Linked DNA regions of Homo sapiens: regions 2, 3 and 4 are each linked to region 1. Evidence: fine-mapped expression QTL. A gene starts in region 1. Each other region holds a variant in brackets. All regions are shown on one strand. Distances are between the middles of the regions. Region 1 holds the start of C4orf50 (chromosome 4 open reading frame 50). Region 2 overlaps JAKMIP1 (janus kinase and microtubule interacting protein 1). Region 3 overlaps JAKMIP1 (janus kinase and microtubule interacting protein 1). Region 4 overlaps JAKMIP1 (janus kinase and microtubule interacting protein 1).

What was found.
Region 2: its variant is fine-mapped to the expression of C4orf50 in whole blood (TOPMed, PIP 0.99).
Region 3: its variant is fine-mapped to the expression of C4orf50 in whole blood (TOPMed, PIP above 0.99).
Region 4: its variant is fine-mapped to the expression of C4orf50 in whole blood (TOPMed, PIP above 0.99).

What each region holds. Positions count from the first base shown.
Region 1 is chr4:6,015,467-6,020,466 of GRCh38, reverse strand. C4orf50 (chromosome 4 open reading frame 50) reads left to right here and starts at 2,036. Exons shown (of 12, transcript NM_001364689.3): 1 at 2,036-2,322. The coding sequence starts at 2,036.
Region 2 is chr4:6,150,567-6,158,615 of GRCh38, reverse strand. All of the region lies in intron 1 of JAKMIP1 (janus kinase and microtubule interacting protein 1), which reads left to right. Among named protein-coding and RNA genes, the nearest start is that of JAKMIP1, 46 kb to the left of the region's middle. RefSeq lists an enhancer at 5,208-5,377. The variant A/G (reference allele first, on the strand shown) is at 5,457.
Region 3 is chr4:6,178,530-6,185,381 of GRCh38, reverse strand. All of the region lies in intron 1 of JAKMIP1 (janus kinase and microtubule interacting protein 1), which reads left to right. Among named protein-coding and RNA genes, the nearest start is that of JAKMIP1, 19 kb to the left of the region's middle. RefSeq lists an enhancer at 4,314-4,603. The variant G/T (reference allele first, on the strand shown) is at 4,273.
Region 4 is chr4:6,104,180-6,112,228 of GRCh38, reverse strand. It overlaps JAKMIP1 (janus kinase and microtubule interacting protein 1), which reads left to right. Exons shown (of 21, transcript NM_001099433.2): 3 at 6,262-6,756. Among named protein-coding and RNA genes, the nearest start is that of C4orf50, 90 kb to the right of the region's middle. RefSeq lists an enhancer at 6,009-6,541. The variant T/A (reference allele first, on the strand shown) is at 4,988.

The DNA.
Region 1 (5,000 bases):
TTTTTTGAGAAGTTAAGTAATTTGTCCAAAATCACATCTGAGAAGCGATGGAGACAGGCCTGGAACCCAGGCAGCCTGGCCCCAGCGCCTGGGATCTGAGTGGCTCCACTGCACCCCCATCCCCCGCCTCCAACTGCCCCAGGTCCACGGAAACCCCTTGTGGCCAACAAGACATTGGCCACTGTTGGGAAAATATGATTAAAGACAAAAGCTTCTCCCAGCACAGAAAACCTCATCACAAAGAAAATTTAAAAAAGGTTTATTATTGAATAAGCATTAAACCAAGATATGAGGTGCATTACAGGTAACCCACTGAGAGATTGCAAAGACAGTAAGAAGTTTCACCCTTTTATATGGCCAGGCAGGCACAATCCATGCACACATCCTCTCTCATCCCTGCGGAAAAGGACTCGATAGCGTCATTGTTTCACATGGTTCATCCTAAACTCACCTGACAACGAGGGCAACCCTCTGTGTTCATTAATTTGTTTTATACAAAGGAAAAAAAAGCTTCTCCTGCACCTGGGTTCCACCCTTCTGTCACTTACTGTGACAGGTTTTGCATCTCGGAGCCAGGCGCCTGCCCAATTCGGCTCCTTCCTCCCACTGAACACTAGGGGCGCTGTTTTCCTTCGAATTTACATCTCAAAGAGGCGGTGCCCAGGTCCTTCAGGGAAACATTCCTGAGTCGTAATGCTGGAAAAGGCTTATTTCGCTGTAAAAAGGATTTACACATATTTCAAAGAGACAAAGAAAGAACTTACACATTTTCTAAAGTAGATGCTTTAAGAAAAGGGAGGGAGGACGTCTCTTATTTTTAACAGGGAGACGGAAGCCTCTCATTTTCTATTTGTCTTGGTCCTGACGCCTCTTTGCACCAGGCCTGGCCTGTGGCGCTGCCTCCTCCTACAGGTGCAGCTGCCTCCATCTCGCTCCTGCAAACCCCAGAGTGCTCGATCCTCAAAATGACATTTGACCAGGCACCTCCCTTCTCCCAGGGGCCCACAGAAACGCCGGAGTCCTTGAGTGCCTGAGAGAAGATGGCACCCAGCCTCCTCTGTCCTCACTCCTCACTTCCTCCTTCTGTGTGTCCACGGGGCCAGCTTTGTCTGGTCCTCCTGTTCCCTTCACTTGTCCTGCCTGTCTGTGCGGGTCTGTGGCCTGAGGATGCTCCCCACCTGGGGGAGTCTCCTCCCCACCTCTCTCTGCTGTAATTCCCCATTCCTCCTACGATCTCTTCAGCCTCATGCTCGCTCCCCCTCCTCAGGGTGCCCAAAGGATGCGTTTGCTCCTTTTCTGGGGTCTTGTTGCTCACCTATTACTGTATCTCCTGTGTCAGAACACACACACTCCAGTTTGGGAGTCAGATCCATATTTGAATCCTGATTCTGCTACTTCCCATCCCACCTGTGGGACCCGGATAAGCTCCTTCACCTTCCAGAGCCTCCGTCTGACCATCTGTATAATGGTCATGTTAACGCCCACCTCATAAGGTCACCGGGAGAATTGGACTAGGTAAGGCATGAGAGGCCCCTGCCCTGGATGCAGACGGCACCCAGGGCAGCATAAATTTCCCATCCTCTTCCCCTAGCAAACTCTAGGTCCTTGAAAAATATGTGCTGTGCTCAAAGAGGAGGTGTGGAACCTTATTCATTATGTGGTAAAAAGATAAGCTTCATTGACTACTGGGAGTCTGTAACATCTGATGGCCTTACCTGGAGGTCTTATTTTTCCTCTCTGTGTTCATCACTAGGCATTTCATCTCAAGTGATTTTTCTGCAACTTTTTCTTGCTTTGCGTGAGTTCTGGCATGCTGACTTGTAAAACGAGAGGCTTTCATTCATATTGTATGACGCTTGTGCAGATGAAACCCAAGTCACCCACTCATGAATAATCCACCTGTTCTTGCCCTTCTCAAAGGATATTTTCCTGAACAATCTGAAGTCACAAACACCACCTTGAAATCTCCGGGAAGTCAATGTTGCAAACTCACTTAATTTTATTATTAAGTCTTGCCCCATGAAATATTTCTGAGATGGAGCCAACAGCCAAGGGACGGACTGAGGAGAGTTTCAGCTACGTCATCAGAGCCCCCAGCAGTGAGGGGTTCGACATAATGAACGTTGATGTGAAGATTGACACATCCTGGATATTCCAGGACATGGAAGATAGTGCTGAGGAGCGGGAATGTCTTCAGGAAGAAGCAGCTGGCCGCCCAGACATGGATATGGGTGCGCTCAGGAGGCAGCTGGAGTCCTCCGAGCAGAAGCTGTCAGCAGCAGAGGACAAGTACGTGACATCGGAGTCCGGGCTGAGAAGCAGGTAGCGATGCCATTTTGATCTCTCTGTGTGTATTTCACAAACCGCGGGGCCATCAGAGTGTGTCACCATGGTGTGTTGAATCACACCACACAGCTGGGGAAACTGGCTCACCAAAGACACGTAACCTGCCCACGCAGTCACTTGCCTTCTGCTCCTCCCGCCCTCCTTCTTCTGCTCTGTACCTGCAGATGAGGCTGCCCGGGCTCCTCTGCTCAAAGGCTTCCATTTAGGTGCAGCCAATGGGAGGCCCTGAAACGGAGGGAGGCAGGGAGAAGCCAGGTGTTCTCCCTCTCTTCTTCTCTGGGTGACTGTTCCATGAAAGGGCCCTATGTTCAAAGTGACAGGGAAGTGTAGAAGGAACTGAGAAACCAAGGACAGAGGCAGACAAATCCAGTTGGTCGGTTTGGGGTGATTTTTTTAGGGGAACTGGCAGACAGAAGCATGGTTTTAGGCAGCCGCCAGACAAGTAGATGTCCACACAGCAAACCTTCCATCCCCAACCCAGGGCTTATATCCTGGGGAAAAAGCATGTGTGCTCTGGAAGGCTTGCATAGGTGGCTACAGGCATCACAGCCTATGGTTTCTGCAATGACAAGGGTTGTTTTGGAGGAAACTCACAATGAATAGGTGTTTCTACGTAAACAGAACTATATCAACTCCACATCTTGGAGGCATTCGTGGACTCAGGGTTAGTCAAGAGTCACCTGCTGGATTAGCGTTTAAAATAAAGTCACTCTTGTTCCCACAGTGACATCTCCCACTGTGGCTGTAACTCAGATGTGCTCTCGGCTTCCTCTGCGGTCCCAGCTCCCGCTGGGTGGCCTGGCTGCTCTGCCCTGCCCTGGTAACATCGTCTCTTCCCTGTGTGGCTGTCCAGCCCCAGGGGCAGAAGTGGCTTCCGGCAGTTGCTAATCCAGGCTGCCTGTCTCTGTCTGGCCTTTGGACTCTGCTGTCATCTTTGAAATAGGTTCTCCGCATTCGTTTCTCTCTGTAGAACTTCCTGCTGTGGGCACTGTTTGCCTGATGGAGCTGACCTGGCCTCAAGGTGGGGCGTTTGAATCCAGGTCTTTCTCTAAAGCCCATCTTCTTTCCTGACGATGTCTTGACACCCAGACTGGCAGAACGAGGTTGGGCCTTGTATATAGATCAGCGAAACCCAGCATGGAAGCACAATGCAGTGACAGCGGGGATTGATTCTGACACGTTACTCATATCCCAGCAGCCACGTGCCTTGGATTTTTGCGGGACTTCCCCATTTTCTTGTACTTGCCTTTGATTTAGTAAAGGCAGACCATTGAACGTGTATGCACATGTGATTTACTTTTCTTCCTTTTGGTAAAGTTTTATGCATGAAGAAATTCACAAATCAGAAAAATTCTTCTGTTACTCTATGTGATTGCCCATTCTTTCATTCATTCTGCAACGCACTTACCCTCCGAGAGTCATATACAAAGTTATGTTAGTTTGCCTGGGTTGCCATGACAAAGCACAGTAAGTCCTCACTGAACGTTGTCTATAGGCCCTTGGAAACTGTGACTAAGTGAAGCAACCTACAACAAAACCAATTTGTTTTTGTTTTTTATTTTGCTTTGTTTTGAGATGGAGTCTTACTCTGTCACCCAGGCTGGAGTGAAGTGACATAATCTTGGCTCACTGCAAACCCCACCTCCTGGGTTTAAGCGATTCTCCTGCCTCAGCCTCCCGAGTAGCTGGGACTATAGGCGCCCATCACCACGCCTAGCTAGTTTTTGTATTTTTAGTAGAGACAGTGTTTCACCATGTTGGCCATGCAGGTCTCGAACGTCTGACCTCAAGCGATCTGCCTGCCTTGGCCTCCCAAAGTGTTGGGATTATAGACGTGAGCCACCACACCTGGCCACAAAACTAATTTGACCATAGGCTAATTGATACAAATAAGAGTTAAGTTCCTACAGCATATTTCAGGTCACAAAAACATCACCAAACTTTGAGATAAAGACCCCAAACACTTCTAATGTTAAACATTGAAATAAATGTGAAAGGCTCAAACAAATTTAGATTTAAGAAAGACTCAAAAAAACACAAGTAAGATGATTATTTACCCAATTGTTCCAGTTCAGGGTCACAGGTGGCTGAGGCCTCTCCCGGCAGCTCAGGGTGCAAGGCCTGAACAGGACACTCACACCCACGCGCACACTCACGCAGGCTGGGACTATGTCGACATGTCAAGGATGGTGACATGGGGATATGGACCCAGATTCGCCGGCTGGTCTCTAAGACCAATCACAAGTATCCTTGCGAGAGGGAGACAGAGAGGGTTGAGTCTAGGGATGGCAGTGTGGCCGCCAGTGTGGGATTGCATGCAGCTGGCTCCAAAGATGAAGGCAGGGCCAGGAGCCCAGGAATGCAGCTCTAGACCTGGAGAAGACCAGGAATTGGATTTCCCCTTCAGCCTCGGAGAGGGCTTGGCTCCACTGACAGCTCGACTAGCTCAGGAAGACTGATTCCGACTTCTGGCCGCCAAGCTTGTGGTGACGTGTTACAGCTGCAGGAGGAGACCAGGGTACCCCGAGAAAGCCCACACAGACATGGGGAGAATGGGCAAACTCCACATAGACAGTGGCCCTGGCTGGGAATCTTTTTTTTTCTCATCAACATTATAATGAAATGGCATTATTTGCAGACCTGGGTGACTTAAC
Region 2 (8,049 bases), 140 kb before region 1:
GTGGAGAAATGGCCCTATGGGATGGAGTTGACCACTCCCGCAGGCCCTCTGGAATACCTCATCCTTTCTTTCCAGTGAATCATGTTCCACCTGTGACTTCAAACCCAAGCCCCAGCCCTTTATTTTACTCCAAAATTTGCTCTCCATCTCATCCAGCCAGGCCTGTGCTGTGGGTGGCCAGGTGAACATCGCAGGGGTCCTGCCTCTGGAAGCCTTCCTGGAGCCACGTTCACCTGTGGCCATCACTGAGATTCCTACATGGATACAGACTGGGAGGCAGACACCACCCCATCCCACTACCATCCCTATGATGTTAGGTTCTGGGCTTTCAAGTGCTTCATAGCTGAGCTTGTGACCCCTGGTGAGAAGCATGTAGTATCCGCAGGGCAAAGTTGGGATGTATGGAGCGTGCACTGCATGACCTACAGCATGGTCTGCCCTCCACACTGTGAGGCGATCCGTTCTCCCCATCCTTGCGTTCCAGGTCAGGAGAGGAGGTAGAGAGAGCAGGAGTAACTTGACCAGCGTCTCACACAGGGAGAGGGACGGCGCTGGCCGACAGCTTGAGCCCTACCTCATAGCACATAGCCCTGGAAATGTGGCCCAGATAACTCTTCTGAAGTTGTAGAAGCTGTGTTCTTTGGGAGAATGAAGTGATCCATAGAAAGAAAGCTGTTGCATCAGGAGTTAGTGCTGCTGATGCAAAGCAAGACACCCTTGGTTCTAACAGAGCCCAAGGAAAGGAAATAGACAACAATCTGTTAGCTGTGTTGGCATCTAATTTAAGTTTTTTCATCAGAATTCTCGACTCTACGGTCCCTCACTCACACCCTACTGGGTGTGCTGCTTCATGGCTGGTGTTTACGGAGAGGCATATCTAACCTGCTCAGTGAATGTGAAACCACAGACAACTGGCACCAGTTTAAACAGGAGAAAGCAGGGGTTAGGTAGCATGTCCAGGGCTACGCTGGGGAAGATGGCTGAGCTGGGATTCTGGTGGGATTGTAGCTCGGAGATCCCGGTTCTGAGTTGTGATGGTCTGTGCCAGTGGCTTATGAAAAAGTTAGGAAAATGATGGATTCTTAGTCAAAAAAGGTGTTACGGAAAGTGTACGCTGAAGTTTGATTTGAAAATTTGAAGATTCTTATATCTATAATTTGTAGCTTCCTAAATATCACAAATTACCTGAATTACCATAGAAATTGCTGCTTTTCAGAGAGCTTTCAATTTAATCTCATTTGGTTCTTGGGACAACCCTGTGTTGTGCGCCAGCTTCCCATCCCGTGCGCCTTTTTGCAGAGGGAGTAACCTGCCCAGGTGCACTCGTCTTAGTCCATTTTGTGTTGCTATAACACAATATCACCACCTGGGTAGTTTATAAAGAAAATAAATGCGTTTCTTACAGTTCTGGAGGCTGGGAAGTCCATGGTGGAGGGACCTGCATCTGGCAAGGGCCTTCTTGCCACATCTCATGGCAGAAGGCAGCAGGGCAAGAGAGTTCCAGAGAGAGAGCTGAGAAGGGGGCTGAACTCAGCTTTTTATCAGGAATCCACTCCGGCAATAATGGCATTAATCCATTCATGAGGTTAGAGCCCTCATGACCCAATCACCCCTTAAAGGTCCCCCCTCTTTACACTGGTGCATTGGGGATTAACAGTGAACTTTGAGGGACGCATTCAAACCACTAGCCATGGAACTTGTTATAGAAAATTCAGGGCTGTGGCTGTTGGCCAATGGGGTGTGGGTCTACTGAACAATTGTAACGTGACCAACACCTATCATGGGCAGACCATGTCCATGTGCCAGGTGTGGCCATGAGATTCCCAAGACCAGACATCTGGGGACAGTGGAGCTGGGATGTAACCAAGGTCTAGCCCAGAACTGACCTTTCTTGTACATCCTACAGCCTTCAATGAAGGAGATATTTTAGCTCCCACATCTCAGCGGATGCTGTCAGACATTTCCTGGGTGAAGACAGATGAAAGCCTTCCACATGCATCAGATCTTTGAGTTGCATCTCAGTAGCTAAGCCCTGGGTCACCAGGATGACTGGGGGCTGAAGCCGAACGCTCAGAACAGATGGCTCTGGATTTATTTCTGCAAATTATAAGAAAGGAAATGCACAACAATCTGTTAGCTGTGTTGGCAGCTAATTTAAACTTTTAAATCAGAATTCTGGACTCTGTTAGGTACCGTATTTTATTAAATCTAAGCTGCTGTCAATTGGGACATGCATCATTATTTTTGTACCACTAAAGAAATGGGAAAAAGTGCTATTCATTAAATGATGATGGGGCATTGAATGTGAGATGAATCTTGATTTCAGAAACGTTAACTTAGGATCAGTGTGATACAGTGGCATTCGCTTGTTCCTGTGTTGGCGGGCCACTTCCGAGGGCTGGCTTTGCGCGTGGCTGGCTGGCTCTGTGCCGGGCGTGGTACGGTGAGAAGATGTTCCCGGTCTCTGCTCCCAAGAAACACACAGATGGGTCAGGTATTTAGAAATGCCAACAGATTATTTCAGAATAGTTTGTTGATGGATGGGTTTTCTGGATCACCAAATATTTCTTGAAGATCCATTATTGTGCTGGGCACTGTTCTACGCACTGAGGAACCCACCACGGACAGAAGTCACAGAGCTGACCCTTTCCGTGGCAGTAGATATTCATCCCCAGCAGCGGTTCTCACACATTACCGCACAGAAAAATGTATGTGCAAACTTAAGATTGCCAGGCCCCACCTCTAGAGAGTGCCATTCATGAGGTCTAGGGCAGGACCCAGGAAGGCTGCATGTTAGCAAGCACACTTGGGAATCAGGATACACAGGCCTTCAGAGCAAAATTTGAGATGATAGAGCTTCAGCTTAAAGGACACTATAATATCCCGTTCTATAAATGTGCCATGGGACATACAGTTGTTGGTGAATATTTAGCAAATATTTAGTTGGCTGCTTATTTTCCTTGTTGTAAACAGCACATCCGTGCATGTCCCTGCAGCTGAATATGCGCGTAAATCCTCCGTGAGTTCTTTAGGGGAAATCAGGTAGCAGCGCTGGGCGTTTAGAAGTTTTCAGAGCCAGTTAGGAGTTTGCTGTCATTTTTCCAACCACCATAACCCACCCTGGAACCAAACTGTCTGGATTTGAGTCCCGCTTAGTAGCTGTGCACTTTTGGACAAGTGTTTTAGCCTTTCCATACTTTTTAAATCTCTAGAATACCTATGTTTTAGGGTTCTCTTGAGGGTTAAATATAAAGTGCTTGGAGCAGAGCTGACGCAGGATAAGGGCTGGGTAAACATTCGCGGTGGTGGTGGTTGAGTGGTGGTTGCTGGTATTAAAAGGCGTTGAGCGCAGAGGAGGGAATGTTGTTTCCTCCTTAGGAGGAGCATTCGTCCTCCTCGTGGGCACACCAGGGTCACTGCGGAGGGAAGCTCCAGCCAGGCATTCATGTGTAGGCCTTTTGATAGCGGAGAGTCAACTGCATTGTCACAGATCCAATTTCAGCACACCCCAACACTGTCACCAGAAGTATCTTCCCAGCAGGCTGGGCTGGCATCTCCCGACTGTCTTCCCACTGCTCGGGAATGAGCTTTAAATTCCTTTATCCACAGGACAAGGAAGGAAGCCTCTGAGGCTCAGGCTCCACCCCAGCTAAGACCCCCCACCCTACCCCGCACCTTTCCCTGCGTGCTCTGTGTTGGTTTGTGGAGTGAGAGGGTCTCAGGGGGCTTCCTGTGGGAGGCGATGGATGAATAGGCCTTCGAGGAATGAATAGGAGCTTCCCAAGTGGAGGAGGAAGGAAGGACTGTCCACTGGATACAAAGGCAGAACAGGATGTTTAGGGTGCTGTCTGTAGTTCATGATGGCTGGGGGTGGGGAGTTAGGAGTGGGCTGGGTAGTAAGTAAACTGAAAGAGGGGTTCAGCGGGCCGGATTGAAAAGAATTCCATTTGCCAGGGCTGCAGAGTTGGGCACAGTCCCTGCGTGCAGTGGGCTGTGCGTGTTGGGCTCTTGGAAGCCTTGCTAAGTTTCTTGGTGTCTGCCTTTTCGGTATTGCCTTTTTCAAGGCTGAAATGCATCCTCTTCCTTTTATATCCCCCCTGCTTTTTTTTTTTTTTAAAGGACTATAGACATCTGACAAATTCCTTGTCCAATCACTCAGGGAACTAAAGGCTTCTGTTCGGTTTTTAGCTTGTTGTGAAATGGGGACTTGGAAGGGGACCACTCTCTTCACGCTCTTTGTGGTAAATCCTTTCTGGGCATGCAGATTTAACATCCTAGGGGGTTTTCCTTGCAATGGTTTTGATGTGAAAATGACCGAATTATTAAAGTAGTTCAATGGCCTAAAATAGGAGCAACTCTCCCCAGTGCAGCCTCTCTGCACGTCCAGTGATTTGCTTGTTTCTTCAGCCTCCGCCTGTGTCCAGCTCCGCTCTGTCTTCCCTCCTGCGAGGGTCAGTGTCTCCCTGAGTGCAGGGTTTATCAGCTCTGCAGGACACAAGCCTGTGCCTTCTCACCATAGGCAGCAGGATGCAGTCAGCCAGGCATGGTCTGGGGGCTGCAGAGATGGCCTTGAACTCTCACTCTGGTTCAGCAGCCAGTATTTAGTAAACATCTGCCGCATACAAGACCTGGGCAGACTCTGTGACAAGTAAGAGGCAGGATCCAGACTTTCCCAGCCAAAAGGGGCCTCAGGGAGCGGGTAGCTGGTTCCGCATTTCTCAGTGAGAGTGCTCACCAGTGTTGCGATGTGAGATTTTAGGTGACAGTAGCCAAACATAATTTATTTTAATAATACTTTAGTGTGCATTAGGGAAAATATAACTGTATCTTATAGTTATAAAATATAGCACCTGAAGCCTATGATTTGGGGGATATTTTTGCTTAGAATAAGGCTGAAGTAGTGTACAGGTTTTTCAAAAGTCAGTAGTGTTAAAGAAAAGTACTAAGCACATAAAGGTAAGGTGCCGAGGGGCACACGGGAACATGATGGCCTTCCACAAAACGTTCTCTCTCCAGATTGTCAGGGCTGTCTGAGGTGCACCCTCTTACAGCGCAAATTACACCTCCGGAAAGCTAATTTTAAGAAAAGAAGAACCATGCATTTTATGCAGAAGTCACAGCGGCGGCAACTGATGACTGAGGTTTGGGAAACACCGTTGGCTCCAGTGCTCATTTTTCAAAACATGAAATTGAAGCCTAGAGAGGGCCAGGGTCACAAGGCTGTGGAGAGAAGAAGGGGCTTCAAATCCCAGGGCTCCTGATGCTCAGCGTGGCTCCTCTTCTCACCCAGATCTGCCTGTGACCAAGGCCTGTGTGAAGGAGGCCAGGCTCGGGGAAGACCCCTGGAGCTGAGGCTGAGAGGCAGGGACGTTGGGGCCTCTGAGTAGGAATCAGGGTGCTGTCGAATGGTGAGCAGGTGTTGGCCTCTGGTGAGCTGGATGCCAGGAGAGTCTGGT[A/G]GAGCTTGATTTTGAAGCCTTGGCTGGCAAGTGTGAATCTGCCTGTGTAGTCTTCAGGCAGGTAGGGGAGGGGGATGTGCATGGGTGGGGCTGGTCACAGAAAAACAGACTGAGCTCAGGTTAACAGGAAGGTGATGTGGGTTTCCTAGAATTGGGGCTAAGGGATGCCCACTTCTTTTTGTTTTTTTGAGACGGAGTCTCACTCTTGTTGCCCAGGGTGAAGTGCAATGGCGTGATCTTGGCTCACTGCAACCTCCGCCTCCTGGGTTCAAGTGATTCTCCTGCCTCAGCCTCCTGAGTACCTGGCACTATAGGAGCCCACCACCATGCCCAGCTATATATATATATGTATATATATATATATATATATTTGTATTTTTAGTAGAGACAGAGTTTCGCCATGTTGGCCAGGCTGGTCTCGAACTCCTGACCTCAGGTGATCCAACCACCTCAGCCTCCCAAAGTGCTGGGATTACAGGCATGAGGCACCACACTCGGCCAGGATGCCCACTTCTGTGAGAATATTGCAAAGATCTGCTGCAAGAGTGAAGTGTTGAGTATTGGGATCAAAGAACTAGTGTTTAAATATAGGGGTTAAAGGGTCACATAAATATTCCCCGGCATCAGGATCAGAGGTCGGGTTTTCTCTTAGAGACTGCCTGCCTTTTATTCGTGCGGACACAAACTCTTCCAATGCCAGGCCTTATCTCTGATCATAGGATGCAGAGCAGCAGGCAGCTCCCCAGCCAGTTGGTGGTGGGGCTGGGTGAGGGCGGTTCTAGGAGCTGGGGCTACAGGCTTAGGTAATGCAGCCTCCACCAAAGAGGAAGAAAGGAAGGCTTGGATGAGTGAGTGAGGACTCTTGATCAGAGTCCCAGTGGGAGGTCATGGCCTCAAGTGGAAGAAATTTCACCTTTTTACTCCCATTTAGAGCAGCGTTTGCTGGTTAGATAGTTTTATTCCGAGTTGATTTGACTTCCTCCCTCCCTGCTCTCTCTCACTCTCTCTCTGTCTCCTCTTTTCCCACCCTCCCTCTCTTCCTTCCTCTCTCCCTTCTTCCTTCCCCTGTCTCTTTCTTCTTCCCTCCCTTCCTTCCTCCTTCGCCTGCTTCCTTTCTCCTTTCCAACCCTGAGACCTTTATTAAGTGGTAACAGTGTATCAGGCATAGTGGCGAGCCCCGTAGTGGTTACCAAGTAAAAGTCATCATAACAACAGCAGCTAATGTTCAGGGAAGGTCAATGTCATGTACCTGGCACTGTGCTCACTGCTTTTACTTATATTGTCTTGTTTAATTCTCATAACAACACTATGAGTTTGGTATGGTTATTGGATAATCTCATTTTACAGGTAAAGAAACAGATCTAGACAAGTGGAAGGACTCACTGGCCTAAGGTCTCACTCCATACCCTTAGCCACTTTGCCGTCCAGCTTCAATGGCTATTGAGATCCACCTTCAACTCTAAGTTTCAAAGAACTTGAACAGCAGACAGGAGAACAGGTGGTTCCAGCCAGGAGGACTGGAGGACTCTGAGCTTAAATGCGGCTGTGAAGGTCACAGTGCTGTGAGTGCAACTAGGTGGGGCATGGGAAGCTCTAGGAAGACTTAGGGGAGGTGACATTGAGGCTAGAGTTGGCCAGGTCTGGGGTGGTGAGAATGGTGGGTAAGCAAGCAGAGGGCCTTCTGGGCAGAGAGAACAGCTTGGGCAGAGGCATGGAGGCACCTCAGAGAGGGCGCTGAGCATTTGGGGATTTGGAGGCAGTATTTTGTGGTGCAGTGAGGAAGAACATGGGAGTCTGATCTCATCTTTCATCTTGGCCCTGCTATTGCTGGGCTTGAGATCTTGAGAAAGTTGCAGACACTTCTTAAGCCTTAGTTTTTCCGTAGGGAAAGTGGGAATAATTACAGAAGTAACTTCATAGGGTTGTGGAGAGGATTAAATGAGGTCCTGTATGGAACATAGACATGGTGGCCATTGTTTTCATTTTTGGCATGTAGGGTGCTATGGCCGTGTCACAGTTGGGAGGGCAGCAGGAGACAAGCTCAGGAGCTTGAATGCCAGACCAGAGTACTTGGGCCACAGCCTGGAGACAGTGGGAGACTGGGGAAGGTATGGCGGGGGCGCTGCACAAGGTCACATAGAAGCCAAAGCTTGGGGAGAAAGAGCTGCCATCCCCAGCAGCCTTCACCAGGTGTTTTGCTTTTGGTGGATGACAGGGACCCACTGGTGGGGTTGTAAATGTGTGTCACCTGGGCACACTCAACGCTGACTGCTTCAGGTGTTGCACTGGGTGTCTTCCGGTGGCAGACATTATTACTGTCTTGCTCAAGTGGAGGAGCTTGAAGCTGGGATGCGGAAATTTCTTGCCTGTTTTCTTCTTCCCGCCATGGTCTAGGAAGCTGATTTTAGAGGCCTGCCTTTTAACGTGCTTTTAAAAGATTTTTCTTCCTACCTGTAGCATCAGGGCAGTTTTCTGGGGCCCAGATGGAGTCTGTTGGGTTTTGAAGAGGAAGCCAGACAGACGCTGATGCAGGTGCTGCCGGCCCCGTGGTCTGTTCATGAAGGTCAGGAGTCCGTTGAGCGCCGTGGGAGCT
Region 3 (6,852 bases), 160 kb before region 1:
GCCACCGTGCCCGGCCCCTGGGGTCTGGCTTTTAATGAGCCCTCGGAGCAATTCCAATACACTCTCCAGTTTAAGAACTAGGGCAGACAGGGCTGGTTCCCACTTGTATTAGTCAGGGTTCTCGAGAGGGACAGAACTGATAGGATAGATGTATATATGAAAGGAAGTTTATTGGGATAATTGACTCACAAGATCACAAGGTGAAGCCCCACATTAGGCCATCTGCAAGCTGAGGAGCAAGGAAGCCAGTTCGAGTCCCAAAACCTCAAAAGTAAGGAAGCTGACAGTGCAGCCTTCAGTCAGTGGCCCAAGGCCTGAGAGCCCTGGCAAACCACTGGTGGAAGTCCAAGAGGCCAAACGCTGAAGAACTTGGAGTCTGATGTTCGAGGGGAGGAAGCATCCAGCACGGGAGAAAGATGGAGGCCGGAAGACTCAGCAAGTCTGCTCTTTCCAAATTCTGCCTTCTTTATTCTAGCTGTGCTGGCAGCTGATGAGATGGTGCCCACCCACACCGAGGGCAGGTCTGCCTCTCCCAGTCCACTGACTGAAATGTGAATCTCCTTTGGTAAGATCCTCACAGACACACTCAGGAACAATACTTTCTATCCTTCTGTCCAATCGAGTTGACACTCAATATTAACCATCACTCCACTTATCCTGTAGTTATGCATTCTGTTTGGCTGTTTCTAAAATAGTTGACAATTGGTTGCTTCCCTTCGATAGGCACAATCACCCCTGCTCTCTTGCTGAATCTACAGGTGAGCGCGGGGGACCCTTGTTTCCTAGAGTGCAGACAGCAGCTCTTCCCGTCCATATAGCACCCATCCCACACTGGCGCTCAGGGTGGAGGGTGTGCTTGGCTTCTAGTATTTTCTTGAGGAAGAGGGAAGGCACCCTGGCTCTTATACTGCACTTGCCTTGCCCTCTCTCCCTCCTTGTGATGCTGAGTGTGGGCTGTATTGTCATTTCTAGGAAAGGAGGGAAGGCGGCAGAGTCTGAAAACCAGCAGTGGGCTGGGAGTAGGGAGGCGTGTGTTCGAGGCATGCCCCCTTCCTGGCTGTGGTGCCTGGGAGCGGTTCTTCCTTCCCTAGGGCATTTGTGGAGTGTCTGCTATGTGCTGGGCACCTGGTTTCTGCCTATTGAGAAGGGATGATACTCACAGGACAGTGTGATACACTCACCTCTCTTTGGGTTTGTTTTCCCATCTGCAAAATGAAGTCTTTTCAAAAATAAAATTTTTACATAGCTAAACCACCCTGCTCCAATATACAAAACAGAGAAGTGATGGTTTATTCTCACATTTATCTTATGACTTTAAACTGACAACATTTACCAGTTATAAGGTCAGTCAGTGAGGACAGTGAGGTTGCTCTGATGAATTCAACTTTCAAAACGAAAAGTATAGGGTGACAGTTGCAATCTGAACAGCTGTGGCATCTTGAGTATTAATGGACTTTGTTGTGGTTGTGAAAATATTCTGTTGTGACGATTTGCATACCGCATTTGTGATTCCGTTTTTGGGAGTGACTTGTCTTGCATTCTCAGAGTGCATTTCACTGGAGATGACAGGAGAGGCTGTCCCCCAAGCCCTGCACAAAGCTGAGTGTTCACCTGGCAGCCCAGGTCCCTGCAGTGGGGTCTACCAGGGTTAATATTGGGTTTGCAGCCCATTTGAGTTGGTGTGATGTTTTCACAGTTTAAAATTATTACACCTAGAAAAAAGAAGTCAAGCATCTGTTGCTCCAGACCTTTGACTCCTGGCCCTCCCAAACATCTTCAAGGAGCACCAGGACTCCATGGAAGGTGGTTTGAAAACCAAGTCCCAGCACCCTGAGTACTGAAGTTTCTGTTCCATTTTACTTTCTTTTTTAAATTTATTTATTTATTTATTTATTTATTTATTGAGACAGAGTCTTGCTCTGTCACCCAGGCTGGAGTGCAATGGCATGATCTTGGCTCACTGTAACCTCTGCCTCCCAGGTTCAAGCGACTCTCCTGCCTCGGCCTCCCAAGTAGTTGGTATTACAGGCACCCGCCACCAAGCCCGGCTAATTTTTGTATTTTTAGTACAGACGGAGTTTCACCATGTTGGCCAGACTGGTCTCAAACTCCTGACCTCAGGTGATGCGCCTGCCTCAGCCTCCCAAAGTGCTGGAATTACAGGCGTGAGCCACTGCACCTGGCCCTGTTCCATTTTAGACATCAGCCAGCACCCCTTCGCAGGGCACCTGTATCTGTGTGTCTAGATATCTGTGGTATTGTTATCTGCCTGTATCATGTTTAGCTCTTTGTTCTGTCTCAACCTTCAAGAGTCCTTGTATTACTAAGATGGGACCTGGGAACCTGGAGCCTCCAGGACCATCACTGGCTGAGCTGAGCTGAGCTGAGCGGGAGGAAGGGCTGCCTTGGGAGCTGGCACTGGCCTGACCTCCAAGTCTCTGTGAGCAGACCTTGAGGGACCTGTGCCTTCCTAGGCATCTCCAGGTCATATCTGCTCCCTTCTTCCTCGGGATGGCTGTGGAGTTATAGGAAGTGTTTGGGGAAAGGAGCAGTTGTATCTAGAAACGGTGATATGTTTCCGAAACTCACACTGTCACTCCACTGCTCCAGGGGCTCCCCGCTGGCCCAGGATAAAGCACAGACTCCTTGTCATCACACATGTGGCCTTATCTCCTGATGCTCCTGCTGTTACCTACTGTCTCAGACCATTTGGCTGCCATAGCAGAAATACCATAGACAGAGGGGCTGAAACAACAGAAGCTTATTTCTCACCGTTCTGGAGGCTGGAAGTCTGAGATCATGGTGCCAGACAACTTGGTTCATGGTGAGGCCCCTCTTCCTGGTTCGCAGGAGGCTGCCTTCTTACTGTGCCCTCGCATGGTGGAGAGAGAAAGGAAATAAGCTCTCTTGTGTCCCCCTCCTTTTTTTCTTTTCTTTTCTTTCTTTCTTTCTTTCTTTTTTTTTTTTTTTTCTGAGACAGGGTCTCGCTCTGTTACCCAGGCTGGAGTGCAGTGGTGTAATCACTGTTCATTGCAGCTTTGAGCTCCCGGGCTCAAGTGATCCTCCCACCTCAGCCTCCCAAGTAGCTGGGACTACAAATATGCACCACCACACCTGACTAATTTTTTTAATTTTGTAGAGATGAGGTCTCATTATGTTGCCCAAGCTGGTCTTGAACTGAGCTCAAGCAATCCACCTTCCCCGGCCTCCCAAAGAGCTGGGATTACAGGTGTGAGCCACCGAGCCTGGTTTCCTGTCCCTTCTTATAAGGTCACTAATCTCATCATGAGGGCTTCACCCTGATGACCTAATTACCCACCATAGGGTTTCAATGTATCAATTTGGGGGGACATAAACATTCACTCCATAACACTGTCCCTTACCTTATTGAATCGTCTGCTTTCCCTGAACTTGCCCAGACCCCTCCTCCTCCTGTCTGCACAGGCTCATCTCCTTGGGCATCACCCATCCTCCCAAGGCCAGGGCGGGTCCCTCCCTGTACATCTGTCTGTCACAGCCATGGTCACAGTGTGTGACTGATGCCATTCACAGTCTTCTTCCCCGCTGGCTAGAGCTCTGTGAGGGAAGGGGCTGTGTGAGATTCATGTTTGAGGCTCAGCACAGGGTCTGGCATGGAACAGGCACTAGGATGCTGTTGAATGAATGAATGAATGAATGGAGCTTGCGTTGCTGCTGCTCTCCCTCTCTGATGCCAATTGACTTTTCTTTGACCCCTGCTCCTCCATCTGCATATCCTGATTTCACCCCTTCCACAGCCCACTTTGGATGTCCCTTCCCTCACCACGCTGGCACCCATAGGCCCTGGTCTCCCAGTTATCACCTGGGCTTGTTACAGTGTCTCCTTTGCTTGGCTAGGAGCTCCTCAAGGGATGGGGGAGCCACTGAGACATTGAGGGACTCTGCAAATGTCTGCACCTGAGAAGGACTTCCTTCTGTACTGAGCTGGTGGTAACCTGATAGTGACCTGGTAGTAACCTGGCAGTAAGCTCATCTTGGTTTATGTACTCCAGGCCTGTAATTAGTGTTACTCTTCGAGCCCCTGGTCTCTTCCTCTCTCAGCATGACCCTCCCCTCCACCCTTTCTGGAACTGCTTTCTTGAGAGGAAGCCTAAGAAATGTGAACTGCGTCCACCAGCACATCTCACAAAGCCTTGTGCACACAGGAGGTGTTTGGTAGGTGTCTGTCAAGGAGCGCCCTGTTCAGCATCTAGTCATATCAAGCCCACACGGGGTGGTGAGTATAGAAAGGAT[G/T]TAGAAACCACAAAAAGAAGTTGCCCTTTGCTTGGAAGTCACTGACTACCCCTTCTTGTTCTTGGTGGTGTGGTTACTTGCTAGTCTCTTGACTCATTTCAGCAGAGGTGAGACAGAAACGACCTGATGGCTGGGGCCTTTTCTGGGACTTCTTAAGGGGTCTTTGCACGTTAATAAAGGGGAGATTCCAAAATGATGCAATGAGTTGGCCAAGAGCCAGCAAGTAGCAGTTGAAAAAGAAAAAGTTTTTATACTAAGCTTGGGACTTGAGCAGCTAGACTCCTCCCTGCTCAATGTGCCATGGCCCTCTGAGAACAAAGCACGTTGACAGAAAATTAAATGTCACTGAATTAGCTGCAACATCCACTTGCTACAACCTCCACCCCCACTTGCTAATTGGGTCATGTTGGTCAAAGTACTTCACCCCTTCCTGCTGGTCCATTAAAATGGGGGTACTAAGAATACCCTTGTCACAGGGCTGCAGAATACTAGGTAATTTGGACAGTTTGAAACAGTTCCTGCTACACAGTGAGAGCTATATAAATGGTGACTTATTACTTGGTGCATGTTTGTTGAATTGTAGTAAATTATCTGATGGGAGAGGGGTGTCTGTGTTGTTATGGTGCTTAATTCTTCTTGTAGCACAGGTATCGGTCCCCATTGCCTATCCTCACCTCCAAGTTTCTCTCCTGTTCAGCAGCTGATAAGATTTTATAGTGAAAATCTCAATAAGAAAGAAGACTTCACGTGCACAGAATGTTCTAAAGGAAGCTTCATTATGTTCTCTTGAATGTTGATAAACAACTCTCATTTCTATTTGATGAGAATTTTTTGTGGGTTCTGAATGTTACGAGTAGCAATTTTATCAGAAATTATTTCTGTTTGTGGGTATGTTTGGTGGGGAATTGAAGTTGGTGGTTTTCTGATATTGGAAGCATTTCATGAACTGGGGTATTTCAAAACTGCTGTTTATGAAAGTGTTGGGGCTAATTCAGTGGCACTTAATTTTCTGTCAATATGCTTTGTTCTAAGAGGGTCATGGCTTGTTGTGCAGGAAGGAGCCTGCTGTTTATCCCTGCAAATGTTCTTGCATGGCTTCTAAGAGGATGTCAGGCATGCTGCTGGTCCTAGGGATAGAAAACAAAACAGACACAGTTCTTTGGGCAGCTGGGAACTGGTCTTAGATTCAGAGAGACCTGGGTTCAAGTCCTGACTCTGTCATTTACAAGCTATGGATTTTAAGAAAGTGACTTCACCTCTTTGAGCCTCAGTTTCCTTATCTGTCATATGGGGATAATATTGCTACCTGTTTTACAAGGAGGCTTTGAGGATGGATTGAGATGAGGTGTACCCAGCATACTACCTGGCATAGAATAGTCTCTTCTTTTGAGTGGCAGCTCTTGGTTTAGCTGTTGCTTTTGGTCTGGGGGCAGGAGTGATACCCCAAGAGACCCATGCAGCCTGACTCAGGGCCACTGCTGGGCCACTTCCCTTCCCTTGTTCTCTGCCTGGTGCAATGAGCAGGGTCACCTTTTGCAGAGGAGGTAGGTTTGTGTCAGGGCAATGGGCTTGGTTTCCTGTGGGTTTGTGGCTTTGTAGGGTTGTCCCTTGACGGTGCCTGTAGGGGGTGTCAGGAAGGTAGAGGAAGGAGGTGGTGGTGGATGGGGCAGGGTCTCCCTGTGTGGGGCTCAGCCTTCCTGTCCTGTTCCATCCAGTCTGCCTCTTGGCTGTTGCATTTACTGAGTACTCACCTGAGCAGGTGCTTTAGGTTCCTCTTTAAGCCTCTCAACCACCATGCAAGATGGTAGGAGGAAACCAAGACCCCACGAGGTTAAGCAGTCATTTAGGGGTTAGAGTTAGTGAATCTGGGGCTTTGAGATGAGAATCTCACCCTCTCTCCAGCCACATAGGGCTGCCCAGGTGGTTTCAGCAAAGGTGGCATGGGAGACCTAGGTGTGCCTGTGGGTCCTTCTAAGACCATTTCATGAAAAAGAGCAACAAAGGTTTGAAAAGCACATTCTAGTCTTTCCCCAACCACTCTCTGGACATATAGCCCAGTTTTATTTTTTCCTGGGAATATGCTATACCAGCTTTGTAACCTGATCTTTTTGGATGTGGCAATCCATTCTGAAGACATTCCAGAGAAACAATTCATAAATGAATGACCGAGTGTGCTCTCCGAGCCAGGCACTGTGCCGGGGCAGGGAGACAGCTGGTGAACAATCCCATGTGAAGAGGGAGGGACCTTAATCAAGTACGAGGTGCTCTGAGGTTGGGAGATGGGGGAGGTTTGTGTGGGGATGAGGTCAGTGGAAGCCTCTCTGGAGACATGACCTAGAGAATTTGGTAGGGTATATTAGTCTGTCCTCACATTGCTAATAAAGACATACCTGTGACGGGAATTTATAAAGAAAAGAGGTTTAATTGACTCACAGTTTTGCATGGCTGGGGAAGCCTTAAAAAACTTACAATCATGGCATTAGGGGAAGCAAACACGTCCTTCTTCACCTGGCGGTATCAAGGAGATGCAGTTTCGAAATATCCCGGTTCATGAAATGCTTCCAATATCATCAGAAAACC
Region 4 (8,049 bases), 90 kb before region 1:
TTGGCTGAGCTTCGGCTATTTGTTTAAAAATGCTCCTAAGTCAGGCTTTTGGTTAGTTTGCCTGCTAAGTTAGGTTGCAGTTCATCATATAGGAACTCATGCATGAAGGCATCCTCAGGCTGAATTCAGCAGGGTCATGGCGGTACCAGCTTTTCCTAAATTCCAAAAGGGAGTAGGGCATAGTGAGGTATGTCCCACTTCCCCGCTTCCCATCATGGCCTGAACTAGCTTTTCAGGTTAACTTTGGAAGACCCTTGGTGGAGAGGAGGGATCCGTTCAGATGGTCAGGAGGCTTCAAAGTTTATTTTTGGTTTATGCTGCCATGAGGTCTTGTAAGCCATATATGTGCTTTCTTAGATGTGATGGGGCTGTGGTCTGGACTCAGGGCTCTGCTAGGTAAAGAGCTTGGAACAGAGCCTGGTTCTGCGATATGAGCTACTTTCCTCTCTCCTAAGGCAGATTTGAGCTTTGGAGCTGGTCAGGACAGTGCCTGGTTGGGTGCTGGCAGTCTAATTAAAGCACGGGCTGTCACAGAGGGGAGGAGCACAGGCTTTCTAGGCAGACCCGGTTTCAAACCTCAGCTTGTCCGCTAACTGGTCTCATGATCTTGGCCAGGTGACTAAAAGTCTCCGAAACCTCTGTCTTCTCATCTGACACCAGCTATTATGGTGTAATTATAGCTGTCCGGTTTAAGATGGTCATGAGGATCTGATTAATGGATGCAATAAAAAGCCCCATCAACATCTGGTGCCCAGGCACAGCTGCAGTCCTATTTGGTGGCCTGCTTCTGACTTGGGTGGGCTTGAGGGTAGAGCAAGCCCAGGGTTCTGTGAGCCCAGAGAGGAGCTGCCAGCCAGGCTGAGCACAGAAAGAGCATGGAGATGCAGGCTTGCTCCTGGGTGGCTCGAGCAGTTGAAGGTCTATCTGAAGCCCCGAAGGTGCCCTCTGGCTCCTGCTGTAGTACCTGGAGTGACGGGTGGAGGCTGCTTGGGGAATTGCAGCAGGCGTCCCTGTCTTGTTGAGCTGGGACTCAGGTCGCCAATGGAGTGCTGGGCCAGATCCAGCTTCCAGGTGGGGACGGGGCTGGGGCCTGGGATCTGGCTGCAACCCCAGCTCAGGATGGCCACACAGAGCAGAGGCTGAGTTCTGGACCAGGGGACTGGGCTTCTGGAACTTGGGGACAGATGCACCTGTCTCCATCCCTAGGTGTTCAAGATTCCAGGCCGAGTGCATCCAGCCTCTTTTAGACATGGATGCTGGTGATGCTGACCTGTTCACCCTTTAGCCAGGTCAACAGGCCAGGTCACCTCCGGGGCTGGGGCTGGGGCTGACTGGCTGGGGGTGTAAGGGCTGGCAGCTTGTATCTGGACATAGCTACAGCAGCTGTGGTGACAGGGAAAGCTGCTCACTCATATCACACTGCCTGGGCTCAAATCCCCTCTCCACCACCACCCCTGCCTGAGGTCTTATAAGCTGTGTAACCCCCTGCCTCAGTTTTCCCATCTGTAGATGGGGACCTCTAAGGTGTCTGCCTCCTGGGTTGTTTGAGGAATGAATGAGACAGTCACACACAGGGCCTGGGTGCTGCCTGTCATACGCTCACATGACCATCAGGGTGACCTTTACATGCCTACTGTGCAGATAGCACCAGGTGCTTTAGAGGGTGTCATGACCCTGGCAGTGACCTGAGAGATCAGGTGTGGCTTCCCCCGTGTTACAGGTGAGCAAGCCAAGGGCTGGAGAGGGCGGGGACTTGCCCAGGTGTGTTAGCTTGCCAGGGCTGCAGTAACCAAGTCCCACAGATAGGGCGGCTTACGCAACAGACGATTGCTGTCTCACAGTCCTGGAGGCTGGCAGCCACAGATCCAGGTGTCAGGATTGGCTCCTTCTGAAGCCTCTCTCCTTGGCTTGCAGACGGCCGCCTTCTCCCTGTGTCTTCACATGGCTTTCTCCTCTGTGTTTGTCCATGTCTGTATTTTCTGTTCTTACAAAGACACCAGGCAAATCGGATTAGGGCCCACCCTAATGACCTCATTAGGATCTATCTCCAAATGGAATCACATCCTGAGGTCATGGGGGTTAGGACTTCAACATATGATTTTCAGGGGGACACAGTTTAGCCCCACACACGAGGCCAGCACAGTAGGTGGTATTGCAGGATTGAAAGCCAGGCCCATGCGGACCCCAGGCTGGGCCTCCCTGTTACCAGGCTGCCTCCCTGCCTCTGGGACGTGTGGCAATTTCCACTTGGATGCACGCTGGCTGATTATTTTCTCAATCCAGCCATCCATGTGGCCGCTTCAGGTTGACTTTACCCATCTGGCTGCTGGGAGAATTTCAATTCTCTGAGAATTCAGTAATGTGCTTATTGACTGGTACAAAAAACATAAATGCAAACTTTACAATTGCATTGAAGTGTTACTTTGATATGATCTCACAATCACTGTCAATGTCCCATTTAAAGTGCTGGCATTTTAGCAAAGCATCCCTGTTGAACACTGTAGGATGAAGGAGGGTGGTAAACGTGTCTGTCTATTCATCTGCAAACCCCTGGCATGCATGCTCCATGCCTGGGCTGAGTGAGAAGTGTTTGGAAGTAACTCAGAGACAGACCCTGTCCTCAAGTCGCATGGGTACAGAGCCTCACAGGAAACCAGCAATACAGCAGCCCTGGGCACATTCCATCAGAGGTTTTAGAAAATAGTGCAGGGACAAGCAGAACCCAAGGCTTCACAGGGGCAGTTTTGTGGGGGTTTTGTGGAGCATTTCCTTACTTTCTGGCATTATAAGATGCCCCAGGCTCCGCAGTGGCTCATGCCTGTAATCTCAGCACTTTGGGAGGCCAAGGCGGGCGGATAATGAGGTCAGGAGATCGAGACCATCCTGGCTAACACAGTGAAACTCTGTCTCTACTAAAAATATAAAAAAATTAGCCGGGCGCAGTGGCGGGTGCCTGTAGTCCCAGCTACTCTGGAAGCTGAGGCAGGAGAATGGCGTGAACCTGGAAGGCAGAGCCTGCAGTGAGCCAAGATCGTGCCACTGCACTCCAGCCTGGGGGACAGAGCGAGACTCCGACTCAAAAAAAAAAAAAAAAAAAAAAAAAAGGTGCCCCAGGCACATCTTGTATATTTCCTACCCCAGCGCTAGACCCAGCAGTTTCTCTAAGGGGTCCTGGTTCCTTTTATTGGAGAATGGCATTAGAAACAAAGATCCAGGCACCAGGCGTGCCCATCACTGCTGCGGTGTCATTGTTTCTAGGCCCTCTCAGCTGCCAGAACAAGGAATATATATGTGTATACTGACCTGCGTATGTACGCATACCTGTAAATATTTCCATATATGACATCTATATCCATACAAAGTCAAACATGAGTTCTTACAGATGTCCCAAGACGCATCCACTGCCGCATGGCTCCCTTCAGCCTCCTCTTGCTTGTCTGTAACCTCTTACTCCAAGTGGGAAACCTGGCTTCCCCCTCTGCCATCCACTTTCTTTGTTCAACACTATACATGTATGATGGTTTCAGAGTAGTGAACTGGTACCCATGAGATTTAGAGGGCTTTGAGCATGGAGGGTGTGGCGGGGAGGGCTGCTGCAGGTGGCTTGGGCAAGGGGGAAGTGGGGAAGTGGCCAGGCCTGGACATGGAGAGCCAGTGCTGCTGGATTGGATGAGGATGAGGATGGAAAGGGGTGAATCTGACTCACTCTCTGAGTGGGAGTGGCAAGTGAGGGTGGTGCTGGTGGTTCAGATAATTTCTCCACGCCAGCCCCCACACCCCCAGGGCATGCTCCCTCTCTTGGCCTTTGTGCCGTGGCTGCATTTAGAGTCCAAGTGCTGAGGAGCGGCTGGTGTAGGTGCCTCTACACTTGGGGTAGCTTGGAGGCACCTGGAGGTAAAGTGCTGGGCGGCTTTTTTTGGCCTGCTCAGCTGGATGGAGTGGTGGTGGGAGGGAGTGCTCTGTGCCCATCAGAGGTCACCCCAGCCTCACTCTGCTGCTTCTGTGGCATAGGTCATGTCACCTGGGCTTGGCTCTCAGCAGCTTTGGGCAGAGCTGGAGGGACCCAGCAGGGCCCTGTCCCCAGGCCCCTGCCTCTCTGTCACCATCCCTGCCCTACACACCTGGATCACCAGCCTCAGCAGCACCTCTGCCCCTCCCAGGAAGCAGCCCCTAGACGCCCCGGGCTGCCCTGCACAGGCCTCTGCCCACCCTTCCATGTTCCTCACCCCCTTTCTACCTGTGTCTCTCACACGAGGCTGCCCACCCCTGATGCAGAAAGTCAGAACCACGATAACAACAGACTTCCATTCACCCACCCACAGTCACCTCATCTTCCTCCTCTCAACGGGCCTTTGAGGGGCAGCTGTTGCCATCCCTGTTTCCTAGTAGAGGAAACTGGAGCTCTGGAAGGTTGTGTAGTCAGGGTTCTTCAAAGAAACAGAACCAATAGGTTGTGACACACACACACACACCCCCCACAGAGTGAGAGGTTATTCGTTAGTTTTAAGGAATCGGCTTATGCGGTTGTGGGGCTGGCAAATCTGAAATGTGTAGGGCAGACCAGCAGGCTGGAGATTCAGGCAAGGGTTGATCTTGCAGCTTCGAGTCCCAGTGCAGCCGGGAGGCAGAGTTCCTTCTTCCGCAGGGGACCTCGGTCTTCTCTTAAAGCCTTCGACTGATTGGATGAGGCCCACCTACATTGTGGAAGGCACCGTGCTTCACCCAGAGTCTACTGATGTAAATGTTAATCTCTTATAAAATGTACCTTCACAGCCACATCTGGACTGGTGTTTGACCAAACGACTGGGCATTGTGGCCCAGCCAAGTCGACCCACAACATCAGCCACCATAGAGGCAGAGAAATTTGCCTGGGGAAACGCAGCTCATCAAAGCAGATTAGGATCTCATTGGATCTGACCCTGCTGGCCCCAGATGGCTGTCGGCATTAACCAGGGACTTGACTGTTGCCTCGCAGGAGGGAGAACAG[T/A]CAAAACCATTTTGTCCATAACTGGGACAATTCTGTTAAATACTTAAAGTTCTGGCTTCCTGCTGCTAAATCCACTAGGAAAAGATGCTGATTGCTGCCCCCAGGGTAAGGTGGACAGAACATGGACTGGTCGCCTGGCTTCATTCCTATGATTGTGAGTATCTGGTGAAAGGAGATGTTGATCTTGTGTGTTTGCCTGGGTTGGTTTTATTTGCTTTTTTACCTGCTGTTTTAAGTAAGGATTTATCAATACTCAGGTGCCATTGTAAAACTTCTCACCTAAAATTAATTTTAACATGTGACTATGCTATCAACAGTGTGGTCTGGGGAAAAACATTGCCATTTTCCCTGGAAGCAGCTTGTCCACCAGAGGCAATTCATTTCAGGTCTTCAGAGACGGGCAGAATTCAGGAAATAAGGGCTTGTCAGGCGTTCCTGTGGAATGTGTGTTGAGTGATATTTGAAACAAAAAGGTTAAAGAAAGCATTTTGAAGTGTTTTAAGAACACACTCCCTTGGGACGTTTTATAAGTAATGTTTTGAATTGTTTGCTGATAAAATGAATAGGCTCAAGGCGGGGTGGGTTGCCTGGTAGCACAGGGTCCTCATCCCTCACCCTGGGCAGCTCACCAGACTGTCTCTGATCTTTGGCTGCCTCATGATAAAACAGAGGAGAGAGAGAGGAAGAGAGAGAGAGAGAGAGGAGAGAGGGAGAAAGAGAGGGAGCACGCTACTTCCTTCCCAAGACCGTGAGGGGTTCATGTGGCAATGTGGGTGATGCATTGGAGCCCCCAGCCCAGCTAGGGACCCCACTCAACAAGAATGGTGCCCCCTGCTCACTGCCCCCCAGGACTTAGAAGCCTGGTCTGTCTTTTCCAACTCCACAGTCCGCGCATGGGGCCCTGGAAATATATTTCTGGTTTACAATCTTTTGGGTCTTGGTGATGATTTCTGCAGGGTGTGTTTTGTGATTGAGCAGTCGTCTCAATTTACAACCTGGAAGAGATGTCAAAGGCTTGAATGCCTCTCCAGCATCCTCAGGGGGTTTCCACCCCCAGGGAAAGTCTCAGGGAACTAGCAGGAGAGATTCTAAGTGGGGCTGGCAGGAGGGTCAGGCCTGCAGGGCACTGCCGAAGGGGGAATCCATGGGAACGTGGGCCCAGGTGGGTGTCTTGGGCGTGGGGAGGCTGTGGCCAGCTCCCCCAGCTGTGACCCTGACCCTGACCCTGACCCTGACCCTGACCCTGACCGGCTCTCTCGCCGCTCTGGCTGCAGGTGGGCAAACTGCGCGAGCGGCTGCAGGAGGCGAAGCTGGAGCGCGAGCAGGAGCAGCGACGGCACACGGCCTACATTTCGGAGCTCAAGGCCAAGCTGCATGAGGAGAAGACCAAGGAGCTGCAGGCGCTGCGCGAGGGGCTCATCCGGCAGCACGAGCAGGAGGCGGCGCGCACCGCCAAGATCAAGGAGGGCGAGCTGCAGCGGCTGCAGGCCACGCTGAACGTGCTGCGCGACGGCGCGGCCGACAAGGTCAAGACGGCGCTGCTGACCGAGGCGCGCGAGGAGGCGCGCAGGGCCTTCGATGGAGAGCGCCTGCGGCTGCAGCAGGAGATCCTGGAGCTCAAGGCAGCGCGCAAGCAGGCAGAGGAGGCGCTCAGTAACTGCATGCAGGCTGACAAGACCAAGGCAGCCGACCTGCGTGCCGCCTACCAGGCGCACCAAGACGAGGTGCACCGCATCAAGCGCGAGTGCGAGCGCGACATCCGCAGGCTGGTACGTGCCGCCCCCTCCCCCGCCCGCGGGCACGCGGCCTTCCCTCCCTGCACGCATGGGGGAAATGCGGAGCTCCGAGGACCTGCTGTGCTCCAGGCATTGTTCAAAGCACTGGGGCCCCAGCAACCTCCCTCCCGTCTTAGGTGTGGTAAGGAGGCTTTGGGGCTGCAGGTAATCCGCTCAAAGAACAGTTCCCCATTTGTCAAAGGAGCTTAATGGAGACTAGCGAGGGTTGTTGCAAATGCCTCGTGATAGCGTATCTAAGTGTCGGGCATTTATTGATTCATTTACTTCAACAACCATGAGCAGACTTCCATCTCCAGGTAAGATGCCACAGGTCAGGGCAGGCCGGCCAACTGGCTGCAACAGCAAGGGAAACATATAAATTGCAAATAGTCCTGTTTTGAAAGATACTGGAGATCTGTGGAAGCTGTGGAGTGTGGATGAACTAAAATTCCAAAGGGAAGGGGAAAGAGCCCTGCCTGGGCGGCCTAATTGCCAGCTGCTTTCTTCCCTTGGGGCATTTGTGGATTCTGGGTGCGGGCTGAGGATTGGATGTCCTCAGAGAGATGAGTAGGACTTTTCTGCCATCTCAGAGTGGGCATGAAACAATGGAAACCAGAGGAGCCCCACCTAGGCCAGCTTGCTGCACAGGAGATCCTCCTGAGTCCTGGAGTGAAGGGGGAGGCTGGCGAGCCCAGCTGGAAAGGCAGAATGACAGCTCCCATGCCCTCACTGGACGTAGGAGACAAAGGGAGGGGGCCCGCCACAAACACATGACCAGTCTGCCCCTCAGGGCGTTTGTCACACTTTGAAGCTGTGTGGGGCAGGAGGCTAAGAAGTAAAGTAAGCTGAGATTTTCAGACTGGATCAAAGAGTAACAGTGATATTTACAAGAGAGACATCTTAATTATGAGGACATGGTGACATGGAGCATAAGAGGATGGGGAAAGATACACTGTGCAAGCACTTCCTAAAAGCAAAGCTGGTCTGGCTGTATTAATGTCAAAGGCTCTAAGGCAAGAAGTAATACTAAAGACACAAAAGGACAGTTCTTAATAATAAAGGGTCAATTCAGTGGGAATGCATTCAATAACAAAACCTCAAAATGTATAAAAGAAAAAAATTATCAACACTAAAAGGAGAAGCAGACAAATCCACAGTTACGGTTGGGGACGAACACGCTTCTCTCAGCAAACAGTAGAACACACAGACAAAGAATGAATAAAGACATGATTTCACCAACACAATTAACCAACGTGAACTTACCTGACAGAGCACTCTATTCCACAA